Linked DNA regions of Homo sapiens: regions 1 and 2 are each linked to region 3. Evidence: fine-mapped QTL for protein levels in blood plasma. A gene starts in region 3. Each other region holds a variant in brackets. All regions are shown on one strand. Distances are from middle to middle.

Region 1 (6,208 bases), 1.3 Mb before region 3:
TTTCCAGTCATTGCCTCACTTACCTTCTGTCTCAGCTAAGGTTTCAAGGTCCAGCACTATAATTATTCCCTTGCATATACCTTCGGCTCACCTGATTCTTTCTCTCTTCATTGTACTTGCCTGACAAAGGTACAATTATGGTTAAATCAATCCTCTACCTTCTCCACACTTACAACCAATTTGAATGTGGTTGGAGAAAAACTCACAAGCCACACACTGAACTGTTGAGTGTCACTTTAAATTTATGGTGCCAAATCTCATGGGGCCTTTAGCACTAGATAAAAATCCTTCTAGAGCTCTACTTCCCAAGATGAGCCTTTTTAAATCTTCTATTTCTTCAAACTTCCAATACCTCCTCCCTCATTGTTACCCTAAGTTGATCATCAAGTCTAATTTCATCAGGAAAATAGTATCTTCCTGCCACCAAAAGTGTTGTCAGTTCTGAGGTTTGATTTTTATCCTTTTTACAAGCTCATACGTTATCCTGTTCCTGTTTTGTGAATGCTGGCAAAAGACATAAAACTTTGTGTCAGGAAAAAATGCACAACCAGCAGCATGAGCCTCAGGTTTACATGAATTACCCTTGCACCCAACTCCCACAGGGTTGGTACTACATGGGCCCAGATGAGTACTGCACAGACAGATTTTTGTCGCAACTGATGAACATCAAGTTGGGGAATTCATCGCTTTTACGGTAAGCAGTAAGAAGCCTGCTCCTTGTCCCAGAGGGAGACATTACTTCATTCTTCAGAGATGCTTGCTGCAAAACCAACCCCAAGAAATGGGCAGGTAAAGATCAGTCAGGGCCTTGCATTCTTAGGATTCCCAGTAAGAAACTGCCAGGACACACAGGGCCCATGATGAGTTGCTTCTTCCAGCAATCCATCCCATGACCCCACTTGTTCTTGGCTGAACTCGAATTTTCATATGAATATGCCACTCCATGAGCCACCCTGCTTAATGTGACTGACAGAGACTGGGATTAAATCTGTTCAATTTGCCTCATGCAGCATTTAATTAAGGAGACTATCAAGAGGACTCTAAGCAATAAGATGAAGTCAACCTGTAGTATACATTTCAACTCTACTCCCCAGGGCCCTGGACTCAGCCAATTGTACATAAGTCCCAGGGGCACCAATCATCATCTTAACTTTAGATAGCCAGAAAGTAGTCTAAAGCCAGTCAGTTATCCATTGTGACCCACGTAAGGGAGCTTAGATTGACATACTGATCTTTGATGTCATTACCAATAATGACAGGGGCAATAAACGAGCAACACTAACCCCCAAAGGAGAGACATTCCCCCACATACAAACATATAACACAAAGGGACAGACTCTAGTTCAGAATTTCTGGTTAAAATTGATTTATACCTTTGTTACATTGGTTTGGTTAATTCAGTACAACAGAAGCATCGCTTGCAGCTCCCATTGCCATTTATGGCAACACTTAAGCTGCCTGAGTATTAGGAAAAGCGTATGAATATATGTTATTAAGATTGAGGTTGGGCACAGTGGTTCACACCTGAAATCTCAGTGCTTTGGGAGGCCAAGGCAGGAGGTTTGAGACCAGGTTAGGCAATATAATGAGACTCTGTCTCTTTAAAAAAAAAAAACAAATAAAAAAACTGAAACAAAGTTGTGGGACCTATCTCTTTGTACGCATACAAGGCTGAGGAGGAGGCAGTTCAGGAGCTTCCATTAGTGGTGTCAGCTATGGTGAAGTAGTTTAGGACCAGCCAAGTTTGCAAGACTTTTGGTGTTTTTATAACACCTGGACAGGGATGACAAATCCTGTAGTGAGTTTAGATTGTCAACTGCAGCTGCTCCTAGATTCAGCTAGACCATACAATTGTTTTGCCAGCCTGCATTGCTGAATCTAAGGAATAAGAAGCCTAAGTGCCTCTCTCCCCTGAACTGCCTGGGGTTTAAAGTGATCTGTGCTCGGGTGCTAGAATTGTTATTCTCCCTCCATGGCCATGAAACTAGGGTGTCCCAACCCAGTAGCTATAACTTTACCTCTTCTCCAATCATCTGCTCATACCAATACCTTTTGTCCAGAGAGGTCAGACATGAATAGGAATAGGTCACTTTAAAAAATATTTACTGAGATTCATTCATTATATTTCCCACTTAGTCCAGTTAGGTTACTATAAGTAATTATACTAGTTGGTGAATAGTATATTCAACCAGTGTTCATTGTCTTTATGATCTAAGACCATGTTAATTCAATAAAAGAATCCAGGTAGCTACATCAAGTTAAGTTTGAATCTCTTAGTCTCCCCTTTAGATGTGGCTGCCCTTCAAAGTGTGTACAAATCAGGCTGACATGAGGTTGTCACTAGGGGAAGAAAATACACTTCAGGTTCATAAATGGTCAAGGCATAATCATGAATTTTCAAAATAAGTTTACATAATTTTTCTACCCATCCATCTTGATCATTACCTAGGAGTTGGCCAACAGGAGACAAATCTTTCCTGCCCATGGCCATATTTAATGCTCAAACAGCCTTAATAAACTGTTTTAATAAAATCTGTGGGCCAGAAAGAGGCAAAGAAGGTAGATACAGAAAGGAGGGAGAGTCAGAAATCTTCAGGATTGGTTTCCAAAAAGTCTATTCCATATCTCAATGATGCCAGCAGCCTTATCAGAGAATGATAAGAGTGTGGAATGTCCATTGAATATGTTTACTACTGGCCCATTGCTAGGTGGCCTTTATGACAAAAATACACCATTGTCAGATTGTAGATGGTCTTGAAAACTGAAAATAAGAATCAGATTATCAAACTGAAATAGCAGCAAAATAATCTAAAAATATGTCAATATTAGCAAGGCACCAATGGTAGTCCCAAGAGAGGGTCAGAGATCTGACACAGCCAATTTTCTAGAAGTGAGCAGGGAAAATGCTCCTTGTAATGTGGCCTCCTTTACTGCAAAACAATCAGGCCAATTTTTGGCAGGAGTCTCCTTTGGTATGCAGTTTCTAGATTAGAAACATATAGTCCTTTGCTGTAGTTCGTGGTAGTGGATATGTTTTCTGGTAAGAGGATGGATCCAGATAATGATGGAAGCCATCTAGATAGATGCTGGGTAATCCATTTGATTCTAGTTGTTCTCATTAGGGGTTATAGCAACAGCCACCAGAAAACCATACTATCCCCCAGTTGGGAGTGCAAGGAATGGAGGATGATGGGGAGATTAGCCTATGGGAGTGGACGTGGGAAAAGGCTTGGTCCTTTCTAAGGGGCTGGTGACCAAGTGCCAGAGCTGCTTCCTATCCATGTATATCCTGATATCTGATGAGTGTCAGGGCCCAGAGGACCCCTTTTTTCTTGCCCCC[C/A]CTGCATGCCATTGTGCTCTGCCCTGTCAAAGGGTAGTCACCAAGCAAGAACAGTGCCACACCTGAGTAAGCTAGTAACTTGAGATCTCATATAACAATGTTATTTCTTCTTAAAGAAGTTGATGTTGTGGAATAGGGAGGGGGAGGAATCAGGGGTCATAGAGGGAGAGAGCAGCTCGACACTAGTAAACAAGGTTTTACATTCAATTTCACTTTCAATTCAATTTCTCTTGCTTGTGGCTCAATCAAATAAACTCATCATCATCAAATAAAATCATCATTTTTTTTTCTAACTAAAGTTCTATATTGAATTGAAATGATGTCATTGTTGACTCCATTTATTTCATCTTTCAGTACTCCTTGACTCAGCTGTCACAGATACGTTGCCTTCTGGCTGGAGCCACAGGGCTTGCTGCCCTATTGTCATAATAATGTTTTTTCCTCCTCCCACCTAGAGGAGAGCTAGAAACAACCAAGGCACCATATAAGGCTGTTTGTTTTAATCCCAATCTGATTGATGGGCAGGACCTTGGGGGTCTTTTGCTTCCCTCTTTCACCTACCATTTCAGTGGGAGTCCAGGGAACTCATCTTCTACATCTGAACCCATCCCAAAGGCTCTTAACATTTTTCTTCCAGAAAGACATGTCTCTTTCAGGATCTCATCTTTGTTGCCATAACTGTTGGGTCTGAGATTTAATTTTACCCTGTTTATAAAGGAATGAGTTAGCCTGTTACTGTTTCATGGATGCTGGCAGAAGACACTAAACTCTTGGGTCAAAGACAAATGACTATATTACTCACAGCACAGCAGACTGCATGAGTATCATGTTTATGTAGGTTTCTTTTGCATTCAAGTCTTACAGGGGTGATTTGCTAGATGGATGGTGTACCTGCAGTGGATTTGCATCACAGCTGAGGAACAATAGCTTGATAAATTATCTGTTTTCATAGCAGGCAGTAAGCCAATCTGTTTTTTGTCCCAACTTTGAACCTCATGTTTCAAAGTTGCTTGCTGCAAAAACCAATCCTGAGAGATGGCCTGGGTAGAATGGTAAGGATCTTGCATTCTTGGTACAACCAACAAGAATTGCAGTGATCCTCAGTGCCCATGGTATATGGACTCTCCCAACACCTACCTATCTATCTGTCACTCATTTACTTGCCGCCTCCCAATTCCTGCCTATGTTTGGACTACTTTTCCATTACAACATTCCCACCTGAAGTTTACTTATGCATGGCACCCTGTTCATTCTCTATGATTCAGGATCTTTAGCAATTATTCTTTATACATCTTGCATCATTGATTTTCCACTCTATTCTAAATCATTCTAATTGGCTTGCCTATCTATCCTCTGGAAAAAAAATGCTCCTTAGAATGCATACACCTCCTCAGATATCCTCTTCTGTATTCCACCCTCCTCTAAAGAGATGTGTATACTTACTCTCTACTTTTTCACTTCCCGGTAACCTCCCCATTAAGGCAGTTTTTGTTACTTCGGTGAAAACTTCCCTGTCAACAATTTCCATTTGCTAATCTAAAACTTAATTTTAAGTCCTTATCTTAACTGGCCTCTAGTTTACAGTTGTTCTCTCTGACCTGCTGGATATAATTTCTTTATTTAACATCTGCCCCCTTTTCTTCTTGTTCACTATCATTCTATTGCTAGCATATCCTCTATTTTCTAGACTCTAAATGCTGGAGTCCCCTAGGATTCAATCCTTAAACATATTTTTTCACCCCTTGGAAAATCTCATGTAATCTCTTGACTTTAAATTTTAGATAGATGTTTACAACATCTAAATTTTTGTCTCCAGCCCTAGCTCCTCTCTTGAACTTCCCTTAACTTTTGTATTTAGATAGCTAAAATGATTTTCAAACATAACATAACCCAGGCAAAACTTTTTATTTTTTTATCTTCATGAAACCCAAAAGAAAAAAATTAAGCTAAAGCAAACAAACAAAATAATCACAAAACAAAACAAAAATTCACAAAACGACAAAAACACTTCTTCCCCATCTCAGTAAGTGGTAACAGCATATTCACCCAGTTGGTCAGGCCATAAATTCAAAGCCGTATTTGGTTTCTCTCTTTCTTTAATATCCCACATCTGATTCCTCCACACAGTTTGTTGGCTTCTCCTTTAAGCTGTGTTTCAAGCACGATCATACTTCCCACCTCTACCATTTCTACTCTAGACCAAGCCACTGTCATGTCTCACCTCAACTACTTCAATAGCCTAATGTTTTGGTGTTCTTCCATTCTTGACTTTCTAAATCAGTTCTCCACACAGCTTTGGTAGTAACATAATATGCATCAGATCATGTGAGTCTTCCATTCAAACAGTCCAGTGGCTCACATGTTCTCAATAAAACTTGTACTCCTTAACATATTCTTGGAAGCCCTTGTGTGATCTGTCCTTGGTTATCCTCTCCAAAATCACCTCCTGAGTCCTCACTCTCTTCACTGTAGCTAGGCTGGGGGTCTTAAAGTTACTTGGTTAGGCCAAACTCATTTCTGCCTTAGGGGTTTTACATTTATTTTTCCCTTTACCTAAAAGACTACAGATTTTTGCATGGTGATTCCCTCTTTTAAATCTTTATTCAAAGACCACTTTTCCAGAGAGGTCTATCTAAACCTCCCACAAAAATGCCACCTCTCTCTGCACCCCAACACATACAAACACATGCTCTATTTCCTTACCCTTATTAATTTCTTCATATTACTTATCACTGTGTGATCTTACGCACACACACAGACACACACACTTCCATTAATTTTTAATCTCCCCTCTCTCAGTCCTTACTAGAATTGTCCACCATGAAATAGACTTTGAACATCTTGACTACTATAGCTCCAGGACCTAGC
Region 2 (6,208 bases), 72 kb after region 3:
ATAGAGTCAAATAAGCCTTCTGTTTACATCCATTAATCACCACTTCTACTTATTTAACAGGGAGATGTTTATGTGCACTAAATATAGTTTATCCTGCTAAGTGATTGTCTGCAAGCTTTCTTTATTCTCCTCTACTTAAATGAAGTATTAATTATATATGTACATATATTTATTCTTTTAAGTACAAATTTATCTGAAATATATTAGGGAGAAACATAAAGGATTTGATGTGTATGGGAAGAACCAAAATACATTCATAAAAAGGAAGGTTATGGTCATGTTAGTGAGATCAAGTTGGTTTTGTCAGCTAAGCTACTGCTTGGAAAGAGGAGGGGGTGACAGGCGTCGGGCAGACTCTGGGGAAGCATCTCTTAGCCAAATGCATTCTGGAAAAGGGATTCCAGAGCCGTGTAATTTTTTTAAAAAGTCATATCATTTAATAATTCAAGACTATTAATAAATTTGTTAACATTTAAATATGTTAACATCAAATGTATTTTGAAAATAAAATCCATTTAATTTATTCATTTTCCCTAAATATTACTGAGATAAATTACCAATTAAACACAGAAGATGACAATACTTAAAAATGCATTTCCCAATAGGGAAACTCCCAATACACTTTATAATAATCATTCAATTAAAAGTAAGTAAAGAGTAAACAAAAAATTTAAGATAAAAACAAAAATACAAAATGGAATGAGTGTTTTTTAAAATGTGCGAAAGCTACAATTTTATCAATATGTTTGCTTGCATTTCATTTTTTAACGTGGTATAACTTATAAATGAAACACTACCAAAATATATGGTGCTAAAAATAATAAAGTAAATAATAAAAGAAACAAATCCCTAGAGTTATTAGACTTTTCCCATAGCAATCTCAATCCTTGCCAAATTCTATGTCATTAGCATAATTTCAGTGGCTTTAACTGACATGTTAGGAATGAATGAGGGCTTAGGATACACATTATGAAATACTAATCAAGTTTATTTCTGTATCTTCTTGTCAGGGGTTGAAAAGTTTCAGTTACATGATTGTACACAAGTTGAAAAAGCAGATACTACTATTTGTTTAAAATGGAAAAATATTGAAACCTTTACTTGTGATACACAGAATATTACCTACAGATTTCAGTGTGGTAAGAATATAACATTGACCAGAGAATTTTTTTTTGTGGCACAATGTTGTTCTAGATATTATTTAATCTTACTCTCTGCCCTTTCTCTCTTCCTCCCTGCCTCTCTTGTTCTCCCTCTGTTTGTCTTTTTTCTTTCTTGTCTTTTTCTTGGTCTGTGGTATATTTAGAGTCAAATAATTAAATTACCTATACAATTCAAACAAATTCACAAAATAAATGAATACTTTTCATGAAAAATAAATATCTAAAAATTGAAAGTCAATTAATTTACAATAATTTTCTTGGCAATTGTTATACACAGGCATTGTTGAAGAGATCATGAAAGAAGGGTGTTATAAGGAAATGATAATACACAAACTCTGTTATGAAGTAAGGAAAAAAAATACAGGATTGTATGGTTCAAGAGTTTACTTTTTCCATCCTGCATCAACAAAATTCATACACAAGTTCAAGAACACTTAAATAAGAAGAAAGCAGAAAAAGAACAGCAAGTGCATCTAGGGATATGTTTGGATTTGAATTGAGGCAACTAATAATTGAGATAGTATTTTTAAAGTGTATTTGAATTTAATGAGGTGAACTCTCCCACCCTTTGACTTAAAGCCATCTGCCAGGCCATAGCTGGCATGACAGACAGATGTGCTCAGGTGTGCATGCGCATGCACGCATATCCACAGCTACACACATAGAGGATGGAGCATTGCGCTGGGTGTAATCATCACCTAATCACCATAGTATAGATTCATGGCCATCAGGCAAGCAGACAAGGAAAGGAAGAGCAATCATGACAGACCAATGATAAAATGTTCTCTCTAGACAATCTATTAGATGAAGACTAGGTGAGGTGCAATTTCAACTTTAAGTTGTATTTGCTATATACAGATTGGGCATCCCTAATCTGAAAATCCAGAATCCAAAATGTTCTCAGAATCCAGTACTTTTTGAGTGCCAACATGATGCGGCTCAAACAAGTGAAAAATTTTACACGTGACCTAAAGTGACTGGTCATAGTCAAAATGCAGAAACATAACACAGAATTTAGTCAGCATCCCCAGAGAAAAATAAATGACCTCAAGCTATGTATATGAGGTATATATGAAACATAAATGAATTTTGCATTTGAACTTGTGTCCTCTTCCCAATATATTGTATCATCTAAATGCAAATATTCCAAAATCTGAAAAAAAAAACTAAATCCAAAACACTTCTGGTGCCAGGAATTTTGAATAAGGGAAACTCAGCCTGTATTTTCATAAAAGTTGAATGTAAAAATTATTTTTAGGGTTTTTTATTATTTTGGTAATTTCCACAGATGTTTCAATCTGATAAATATTAAATAGAGAATTATAAATGTGAAATTAGAAAATAAATGTGTGCGTGAAATATTGCATCGATATATTCATTCGAAATATTTCTTTATTTCAGGTAATATGATATTTGATAATAAAGAAATTAAATTAGAAAACCTTGAACCCGAACATGAGTATAAGTGTGACTCAGAAATACTCTATAATAACCACAAGTTTACTAACGCAAGTAAAATTATTAAAACAGATTTTGGGAGTGAGTATGTTACTTGCATTTATATGTAAAATTGCTTCTCTCTTCATGTTCTTATAATTATTTGAGAATCATAGGAAATGAATTGTCTTTTTGCTGTTTTTGATACTTTTTAAGCATATGCTTTTTATTTCAATGAAGCGCAATTTATCTATTTTTACTTCTTTTGCTTATGTTTTTGGTGTCGTATATGAAAGTCCATTGCCAAGTCATGCAGATTTATCCATATGTTTTGTTCTAAAAATTTTATAGCATTGGCTCTTAAATTTAGCTCTGTTACCCACTTTGAGTTAATATTTGTATATGGTGTGAGGTAACAGTCTAATTTCATTTTGTTGCATATGGCCATCTAATTTTTCCAGCGCCATTTGCTGAAAATACTATTTATTCCCCCACTGAATAGTCTTGCCATTCTTATCAAAAATTAGTTGACCATAATGATGGGTTTATTTCTGAACTTTCAGTTTTATTTTATTGATTTATATGTCATACTTACACTGTCGATTACTGCTGCTTTGTAGTAAATTTTGAAACTGGAAACTGTAAGTTCCCCCAAATTGTTACTTTTCCTCAAGATTGTTTAGAATATCTAAGGGAACTTGGAATTCTGTATGAATTTTAGGATCAACTTTTCAATTTTTATAAAGAAGCCATCTGGGATTCTTTCAGGGATTGCATTGAATCTGTGGATAAATTTGGGAAATATTGCCATCTTAACCATGTTAGTCTTCCAGTTCATGAACACAAGATATCTTTCCATTAATTTATGTCTTCTTTAATTTATTTTCAAAATGTTTTGTAGTTTTCAGTGCATTAGTGTTATAATTCTTCTGTTAAATTTATTTCTAGTTTAAGTTTATTCCTGGTTATAATGCTGTTGTTTTCTTAATCACATTTTCAGGTTTGTTACTAATGTACAAAAGTACAATTGATTTTTCTGTATTGATCTTGCAGTCTGTCACATTACTGAATTTGTTTATTAATGATAATATTGAGAAATTTTTGACAAAACTTATAAATGTAATTCTAAATTTTGTTTTGTTTTGATTTTGAGACGGAGTCTC[G/A]CTCTGTTGCCCAGGCTGGAGTGCAGTGGCGTGATCTCGGCTCACTGCAACCTCTGACTCCTGGGTTCAAGCAATTCTCCTGCCTCGGCCTCCCAAGTAGCTGGGACTACAGGTGCGTGCCACCACGCCCTGCTAATTTTCTGTATTTTTAGTAGAGATCAATCTCCTGACCTCATGATCCGCCCACCTTGGCCTCCCAAAGTGCTGGAATTACAGGCATGAGCCACCATGCCCGGCCCGTGATTCTAAGTTTTATGTAAAAAGGATAGTTGAAGGCTAAAGAGGCTGCCTAAATCCTTGTCTCCTCATACTTCTCCAAAATAATATATAGCTACAAGAACAGCAAATAAAACTATGTAAAAACTATATCCTCAGCATAACTAGAAAATTTTAATGTATTTTTATTAGTACCACAATTATTACATTCTTTATAATCAATGCAACAAAATAGAAATCCCAGAAAACTATGTTTTATATTTGAAAACAGCACAAAATGTTTTCAGTGGGGGAAAAATAGTCTTTTCAACTAATGATCCTGGTATCTCTGTAGAAAAAAAATGAACATCAGCTCTCACCTCTCAACAAACACAAAAATTAATTCAAAATGGATTCCAGACCTAAATACTAAAGCTATAATTTAAAAAATTCTAATCAAAGACATAGGAGAAAATGTGTAGCTTTAGCAAAGATTTCCTAGGGCACAAAAGCAAGAAACATAAAACTTTTTTGATGAATTGGAGTGCATAAAAATTGAATATTCCTGCTCTTTGGATGAGGCCACTAAGGAAATAAAAAAGCAATAAATAGTTTGTAAAAAATCAAAATTAATTTTTTCAACAACAGAAGTTTTTCCAGAATATACAGAGAGCTCTTTCAGCTGCAAAATAAGGACTAAAACAGCTCAATTGAAAATGGACAAACATTTTTAATATATACTTCACAAAAGAGGATACACAGGTGGTTAATAAGCACATTAAATGATGCTCAGCATCATTAGTTAACTGAGAAATACAAATTAAAACAACACTGAGATGATAATACTATACATCCATTAAAATGGCTAAACTTAAGAATACGGATACTACTAACTATTGGTCAGGATGTGCAGCCATGACCCAGGAATTTCACTCCAGGTATTTACCAAAGAGGAAACATGACAAAGCAGATGCATTCATAGTAGCCAAAACCTGGAAACAGCCCAAATGTGTATTCACTGTTGAATCCTAGGTAAAATGTGGTGTATCTTTACAATAACTACTGATAATTTTTTAAAATTCTAACTATGACACATGCAACTAAGTGAATGAATCTTCAGAACATTACATTGAGTGCAATATGTTAGGAGTGAAAAAGTACTTACTGTTTGTTTCATTTTATTTACATGCAATGGGTAAAAAGACAAACTTAATCTGTAGTTAACAGAAAGTTGATCAGAAGGTACGTGAGTCTGGTCAAAGGAGCTGAGTTGACTGGGAAGTACCACAGAAGGACATTTTGGGATCACAGAAATTTTCTTTATCTTGATTGTGGTGTTGGTTATGTGGATGTATACATTTGTTAAAAATGCATTAAACTGTATCTCAAATGGGTACATTTTAATGTAAATTTTACTTCAGACATTTTATTTAAACATTTATCAGTTTTTCTCAGTTTCAAATGACTAGTTACTGGAAGCAATGACAAGTGCTACTCAATGACTGCTAAATTTATTGGTGCTATGAATGCCAGATTTTTAGCACAGCAAAATCTACAAATTCCAGGATTTTTAGGTAGTATCTGGGCAAGAATATATATGAATAATGTATATGAAAGGAAGAGGGGGTTCTTAGATATCTTCAAGTCAGTGGAATGCTTAGGTTTCACAGTGCCAATCTGGTGTGACATTTACTTTGTTAAAGGAATTTACTCTAAAACAAATTAAATGAGCCCAGATGCATTTCTTTAAATTTTATTTTGAATTCATCATTTGTCAAAATATGGTTATCAATAATGCATGCTTATAATATGAAGAATGCTTTATCCATGTCTTATTTTTCATATTACATAACATTCTTATTCTTTTAACAGGTCCAGGAGAGCCTCAGATTATTTTTTGTAGAAGTGAAGCTGCACATCAAGGAGTAATTACCTGGAATCCCCCTCAAAGATCATTTCATAATTTTACCCTCTGTTATATAAAAGAGACAGGTAATTTGTGTAGAATTTAATTTCATCAGAAAAGAGAAATCAAGAATTTGAAAGTACTAGAAATTTTTATTGAGCCAGTGAGTCACAAAGCTCTCTGCTTAGAGACTGCATAGGCATAGTATACTCCCTGATCTTAGAATTGCTTCCACTCATTCAAAGCTTTCCAGCCCCAGAAATGACTAAAATCCAGAACATTCTAAATATTTGCTTGTCCTTCTTGGTCTTAGTTTAAATCTTTGTGCTCCAAAGCCTAGAGAC
Region 3 (6,208 bases):
TGCAGTGAGCTGAGATCGTGCCACTGCACTCCAGCCTGGGCGACAGAGCTGAGACTGTCTCAAAGAGACAAAAAGGGCAGACAGAGGAAGAGGACCCAATATGGCAACTGTTGAGGAAAAGCCAATAAGGGTTAAGGAAATTTAAATTTGTAGGTAATGATGTTTTGGAAGCTGACAAAACATAATGGTTAGAGAAGGAAAGATTTTGTTTAATGCTACTAAGAAGTCACATAATATGAGGGTAGAGAAACAAATGATGGTATAAAATCTGGCAACATGGAGACGATTGGTAAGAAAATTCAAGAACAATGTTTATAATGCTTCATAACTTCCTCATAGCTCTTAGGGTAAATACATATTCTTGGAACCTGCAAGGCCTGGCAAGATTTGGCCATCATCTCCCTCTGAAACCTCCTTATTTTCCAGGCTCTGCTTCTTTCTACATCAGCCTCACATCTCTTCCTGTTCCTTGAACACAGTCTCCTCCTTTAAATTTATTATTTCTGCCTAGAATACTTTCCTTCTCCTCATACTCATTTAACTTATTTTCTTCAGGTCTAGCTCCATTGCTTTTTATTCCAGGAAAACTTCCCAACCTCCAGAATAGACCAAATATCCTATTATATGCTTAAATCACAGTGTGGAAGTATTGCCTTTGTGATGAAAGTGTCATGATGACTGGATAATTAATTATTGTGTCTTCCACTAAAGTGTAGATAGGAAAGAAAGCATGCCTGTTTTTGCTCACCATTTTTTCCTCATGTCAGGTAAAATGACTGGATTACATTAGGAACTTGCTCTGTATTTGTTGAATGAATGAGTGAATGAATGCATGAACAAATGAGTAACATCTGCCTCTGTAGTTAACTTGTAATCTGTTTCTGTCTTTATATAACCTCTACTGTAGGTAGCCTTAAAAATCTGGAAAATGACTTTATTGATTTAAGTAAATATTAAGTTTTTAAGCTTTTAAAAATCTATTGTAAGTTGATTAACTATGATTATTTTGAAATTTTCTTCATCAAAATTTGAGATGACTTTGGATACATACTGTTTTCAGCTACTCAACAAGTGCCATTGTATTTACTATGTATGAAATCTGGTGTTACTTCCTGCCCATTTCCTAGACTCAGTTGTTCTTTGCAAAATACCCATTTATCAGCAACCAGCCCACCCTCCCTCTGGGAATCAGTGAGAGTGGATCACATCAGTATGTCATAAATACTCCTCCTGTTTTCTTTGAGAGTTTTCTGCTGATGCAAGCGGAAGGCTTGGATGCCAGGCCTGTATGTGATACAGTAGAAATTTCCCCAGATGCCCTGTGGAAAGACAAGCTGCTACCCGGAGTCCTTCCTGGATGTCTGGCTTAGTGTAGTATACCATCAAGGACAACCTGGCTCTGTCTCCTAACAAGCTGCTAGGGCCTTCCCTCTTGCCTACCCTCCTGACAGCCTGGACCTCAGGCTAACAAACCTCTGGGTTGCCACTGTCTCCATTCTGAGCCATCAGAATTGTATATACATTCATCTGCTGATGTCTCTGTATTTCAAGCTGTATGTCTTTACACCTTTATAATACACAGTACAGATTTTGCTGCTTAAAATTCTAGTATTTCCTATAGACACTAAACTCAATTTTAACACAATGAATATGTTAAAACATTATATATGTGTTGGATTAACACATATAATGCAACTCATTTGTTGCTAATCTATCTTGGATTCCTTGGGTAGAATCTGTCTTCTCACCTGTCTGAAATGGAATTGAATCTCCTAACTTCTTACTATTTTTTTAAAGCCACAAATCCCTTTTAAAATGTCCGTTTAAGGCTGCTAAACTCACATTGTTATAGAGTATATTTTATATACTTTTCTTCCTTTTAAAAGATCATATACACTTTTCTCCTGGCCTCTAATTTTGCCAAATATTCTGCCATAACAGCAAGCTCACAGAACACAAGTATTTGCTTAAAGATATTTAAAGCAAATCCCCAAAGAGTTTTCTGTTGCAAATGTATTTTAAGACATAGGCTGAGGAGCTGAGTATTCAAATCCATGAGTTCTGACACTGATGTTTTATTAGGCCTACCCACATGAAAATTAGTGCTTACTTGCACAGTTATCTTATTTAAAAATACATTTGCAAAAAGAGAATAATTTCATTTTCACTGATTCAAAGGTCTATCTTTTCGAGTATTATAAACTTACATAGTACAAAAAGATTGGTAAAAGGGATGAGAAAAATAAAGGGCAATAGTAAGGTGAGTAAGGAAAGCAAAATTAAACTTGGAGACTTGGGTTCTAAATATAGCTTGTCTACATCCTAGCTGCAAGATCTTAGGCAACTCAACTAACCTCTCTGAACATCACAGATAAAATGGGGAATAATAACATTATCTAGCTCAAGGGTATCGTACAAATTATACAATATATGTAAAGTGCAAAGCATAGTTCCTGCACATAGTAAGTGCTCCATAAGTTAAATATAATAATAATCATAGTAAAATAATATTCTTAACTACAATCTTATTAAAAGGTTATTACCTAGAGTTTAAGCTGTGGGGTTATTTCCATTTGCACAAAGTGTGATAGAAATTTGGCTCTGTAGTTCCTAGCAGCCAATGTAAGAGTAAAACAAAAAAGTTTGTAAGTATCAAAAGATTTATTTACTTAAATATAAGAACCCTACAATAATGCTTCCAAACTAGGGTTTGCAGAATTACCACAAGGGCTCTGTCTGTCTAAAAGTCCCCCAAGCATTATCTATTGTTCAAATAAATGAGTTGCACATGTGTGTACTTTTATTTTTAAAGGCATATAGATATTGTATTAATAAAACCAATTCATCTAATTGTATTGTTGAATTTATACTTTTTGCCAGTAAGCATTTTCCTAATAGATGGACTTAACTAAGAACATCAGAATGGTGAAGAGCATTGTGTTAATACAATTCATTGTCTTATTTGTTAAAAAAGTTGAAAAAGTATTGCTGAGAAAAAGGAAACAAGTTAACTTTTGTTAAAGGTATCTCTTGGTTTTCACTGTCCTTTCCCTCATCAGTAGCGCCAAGAACATCTTAAGTCACAGAAACATTAGTTTTTGGAAGCAGGGTTTGCTGTAACTATAGTAGAAATGACATTCTGATTCCACTCCTAGCTTCACAAGGATATCTGTGAAAGATTTGGGGCAAAACTGTTAAGCTGTCTGAAAGTGCTTTTGCATAAGAAATGGGTTTTACTGCTAAAACTGTCATATTGCTGAGTTTTGAATGCCCTAATGGTAAATGATACTGGGTTGCCAAAAATAACCAGATTAGTAGTTTTTTCATTCATTTGGCCGTCTCAGTAAGTCAAATATTGATACTTTCTACTAAGTCATCTTGCCAACACCCATTTTGTTATACTTATGCTGAATCTGTTTGTCATCTCTTAAGTAAGAAAATTATTGATTATTTTGTGGGGATTTAATTTAAAAAAAATGGTAATGGATACTGTAAAGGAGCATTATTTGGATGGTTTAAAAACATCTTCCTTGATGGGAAAATCTTTTAAAAGGCTTTCTAACTTGGTGTAATTACTTGAATTAAGGAAGTGCAATGCCATTCTACTGACTTAGAACAACTTTTTTGACTTCCTGCAAAGAGGACCCTTACAGTATTTTTGGAGAAGTTAGTAAAACCGAATCTGACATCATCACCTAGCAGTTCATGCAGCTAGCAAGTGGTTTGTTCTTAGGGTAACAGAGGAGGAAATTGTTCCTCGTCTGATAAGACAACAGTGGAGAGTATGCATTTATTTATTTACTTTTACATTTTTGATTCGTTTTTACAGAGAAAAACTTCTACAGAGATAACAATTATTTTGCTTTTCAGAAGGACGCATGCTGTTTCTTAGGGACACGGCTGACTTCCAGATATGACCATGTATTTGTGGCTTAAACTCTTGGCATTTGGCTTTGCCTTTCTGGACACAGAAGTATTTGTGACAGGTAAGTACAAGGATATTAATATTTTTTAAATTATTTTTTCTCTTTTGGAGGAATGTTTGAAATAGACATAAAAATAATTTAAATGTGTTGGTAACTGGAAGTGAGAAGCCTGCTGTAAACCATCAAGATTGTTGTCTCAGGGAGACATAGCTAGTTGTGTGACAGAATACATTGTTTCTGTTTACAAAGACATAAATGTTTCGGGACAAAAAATACAATTTTAAAAGGAAAGCAATGTCTATCTGTATCTTTATTTACAACTGTTCAAAGATATTACAAAAGCAACATTATTACTTAACTTCCAAAGTGACAATAACACACATTTATAAAAGCCTGAGAATTTTTTAATGATAAAATAAGTGAGTTTTTATTCTTTTAACAAATTTGATCTTTTAAAAAGTCATAAAACAGCTTTGGTTGTATGTAAGCCACTCCCTCTTTTCAGACCTGAAGTTTGCTTCCTCAAATTTTGAATTTAATTGACATATTTTATTGAATACTTGGGTATATAATAGTTCAAAAATATATTGAGATATTTAGTAAAATATTAACTTTCTGCAATTTTTATCACAGAATGTATTTTAAATCAAGTTTTTAGTTTCTTGTTAATAGTTTTAATACATTTTTGCTTTAGAAATTCTTGTGGAGCCACCGCCCTTCCTGGGTGGTGGGTAAATATTACAGCCTTGATGAGATAGAAATATTTAAACTCTTAAAAATCATGCAAATGCTGTATTCAGTAGGAAAATGCAACTAGTTGGACTTCCAGTGCCTATTAAAGTTTGAAATCTTTGCACATTTATGGTCTATTCAATGGATAGTTCTTGAGCGGCGTCAATATGAATCATGAGTACATTTCAATAGATTATAGAATGTAACTAATAATTAATATTTAATATTTCTCTTTATGATGTAGTATCTAAAAGGACATTGAAAATAAAATTTTTGTAGAAATTCCAAAAAGTATAAAAAGTATTTTAAAACAACTTGCTTATTACAATTCACTTTGAAGTCTTTTTTTGACTTTTACCGTTCTTCTTTCCTCTGAAAGTCAGGGAAGTAGCTACCTCTTGAGCATGTTACATTGACAATTTCTATTTGGAGAGGAAAGAAAGAGGAAAGAAAAACAACATAAGATTTTTGTTGTTGTTGTTGTGGCTGTTTTGCTTTTTATTGCAAAGGTGAATTTTTTAAAAATCTATATATTTGCAGCATTTGTCTTAGTACAGAAAATGTTTATCAAGTTACCATCCCTTTAAAGCTTATGATAATAAAAAGTAAATTATAAAGAATAATAATCTCAATGAAGTGATATATGTATATTATCACAAATCAGAACAGATTTTCATTTAAAATTCCCACTCAGGAAATGTCGAAAAGCATTTTTAAATGAGCATAAAGAAATACTGAGACATTTTGTAAGCCAGAATATTTTTCTTCTCTTCATATTCATTTAACTTCTATTATTTTCTTCAGGTCTAGCTCCATTGCTTTTTATTCCAGGCAAACTTCCCAACCTCCTGAATAGACCAAATATCCTATTATATGCTTAAATCAGAGTGTGAAATATTTCCTTTGTGAATAAAAATTCAACTCATTCTATTACAGGATGTTTTTTTAACCATAAGACACATCTTTGAATTTATAATTGAAATAATATGATGGGGTCTAGAAACCTTTATATCAACTTTGCTGAATGATTTATACCATAGCAAATAAATGGATATACATAAATTTATTTTGAAAACTCAACTTTATCTTCAGTTGCTCACATAAATATTGAGAGCAAACATTTTTCTAAAAGACATTTGTAGACTCCCTGAGATATATGCTTATTTGTGGAAAAACATATACAGATATAATCATTTGTATCTGCAAATATTGTTTATAATCCTTTCAAGTTGCAAGAAACATTTTGTGATTTAATGTATAATTTGGAAAATTCTTAATGCTTTAAATTATTTATTTTTCTTTTTTAGCAACAAATGAGTTGGATTCTATGTTTCATTTTAACGTGTTAAAATTAGTTTAGTGCCTACAGGAAATAATAAACTTTTGGGGAACAAAATTTATATTGTATGCTGTAAAGGCATAAAGAAATAGAGCCAAATGTAGAGAGCCATCAATGGTAACTCTATGCATAATTCAAATATTTTATTTAATATCTAAAATGCACACACGGACAAGGCCAAAGTTAATCTTTGCCACGGCAACAACCAGGC

Which allele goes with the higher level. Alleles are on the strand shown, and positions count from the first base shown. The strength of an association depends on the size of the effect and on how common the allele is. Not every link is listed here.
In carriers of allele A in region 1, the plasma level of the protein whose gene starts at base 3,685 in region 3 tends to be higher than with C alone (weak association).

What was found. PIP is the posterior inclusion probability: the model's chance that the variant is causal. Protein levels are from antibody-based Olink assays in UK Biobank. Linkage for the fine-mapping came from a reference panel and not from the study's own genotypes, which makes the PIPs less certain.
Region 1: its variant is fine-mapped to the plasma level of the PTPRC protein (UK Biobank, PIP above 0.99).
Region 2: its variant is fine-mapped to the plasma level of the PTPRC protein (UK Biobank, PIP above 0.99).

What each region holds. Positions count from the first base shown.
Region 1 is chr1:197,371,110-197,377,317 of GRCh38, forward strand. All of the region lies in intron 5 of CRB1 (crumbs cell polarity complex component 1), which reads left to right. Among named protein-coding and RNA genes, the nearest start is that of CRB1, 110 kb to the left of the region's middle. The variant C/A (reference allele first, on the strand shown) is at 3,341.
Region 2 is chr1:198,707,123-198,713,330 of GRCh38, forward strand. PTPRC (protein tyrosine phosphatase receptor type C) reads left to right here. Exons shown (of 33, transcript NM_002838.5): 10 at 1,011-1,139; 11 at 2,565-2,702; 12 at 5,831-5,950. Among named protein-coding and RNA genes, the nearest start is that of PTPRC-AS1, 43 kb to the left of the region's middle. The variant G/A (reference allele first, on the strand shown) is at 3,764.
Region 3 is chr1:198,635,356-198,641,563 of GRCh38, forward strand. It overlaps PTPRC (protein tyrosine phosphatase receptor type C), which reads left to right and starts at 3,685. Exons shown (of 33, transcript NM_002838.5): 1 at 3,685-3,782; 2 at 3,871-3,986. The coding sequence starts at 3,914.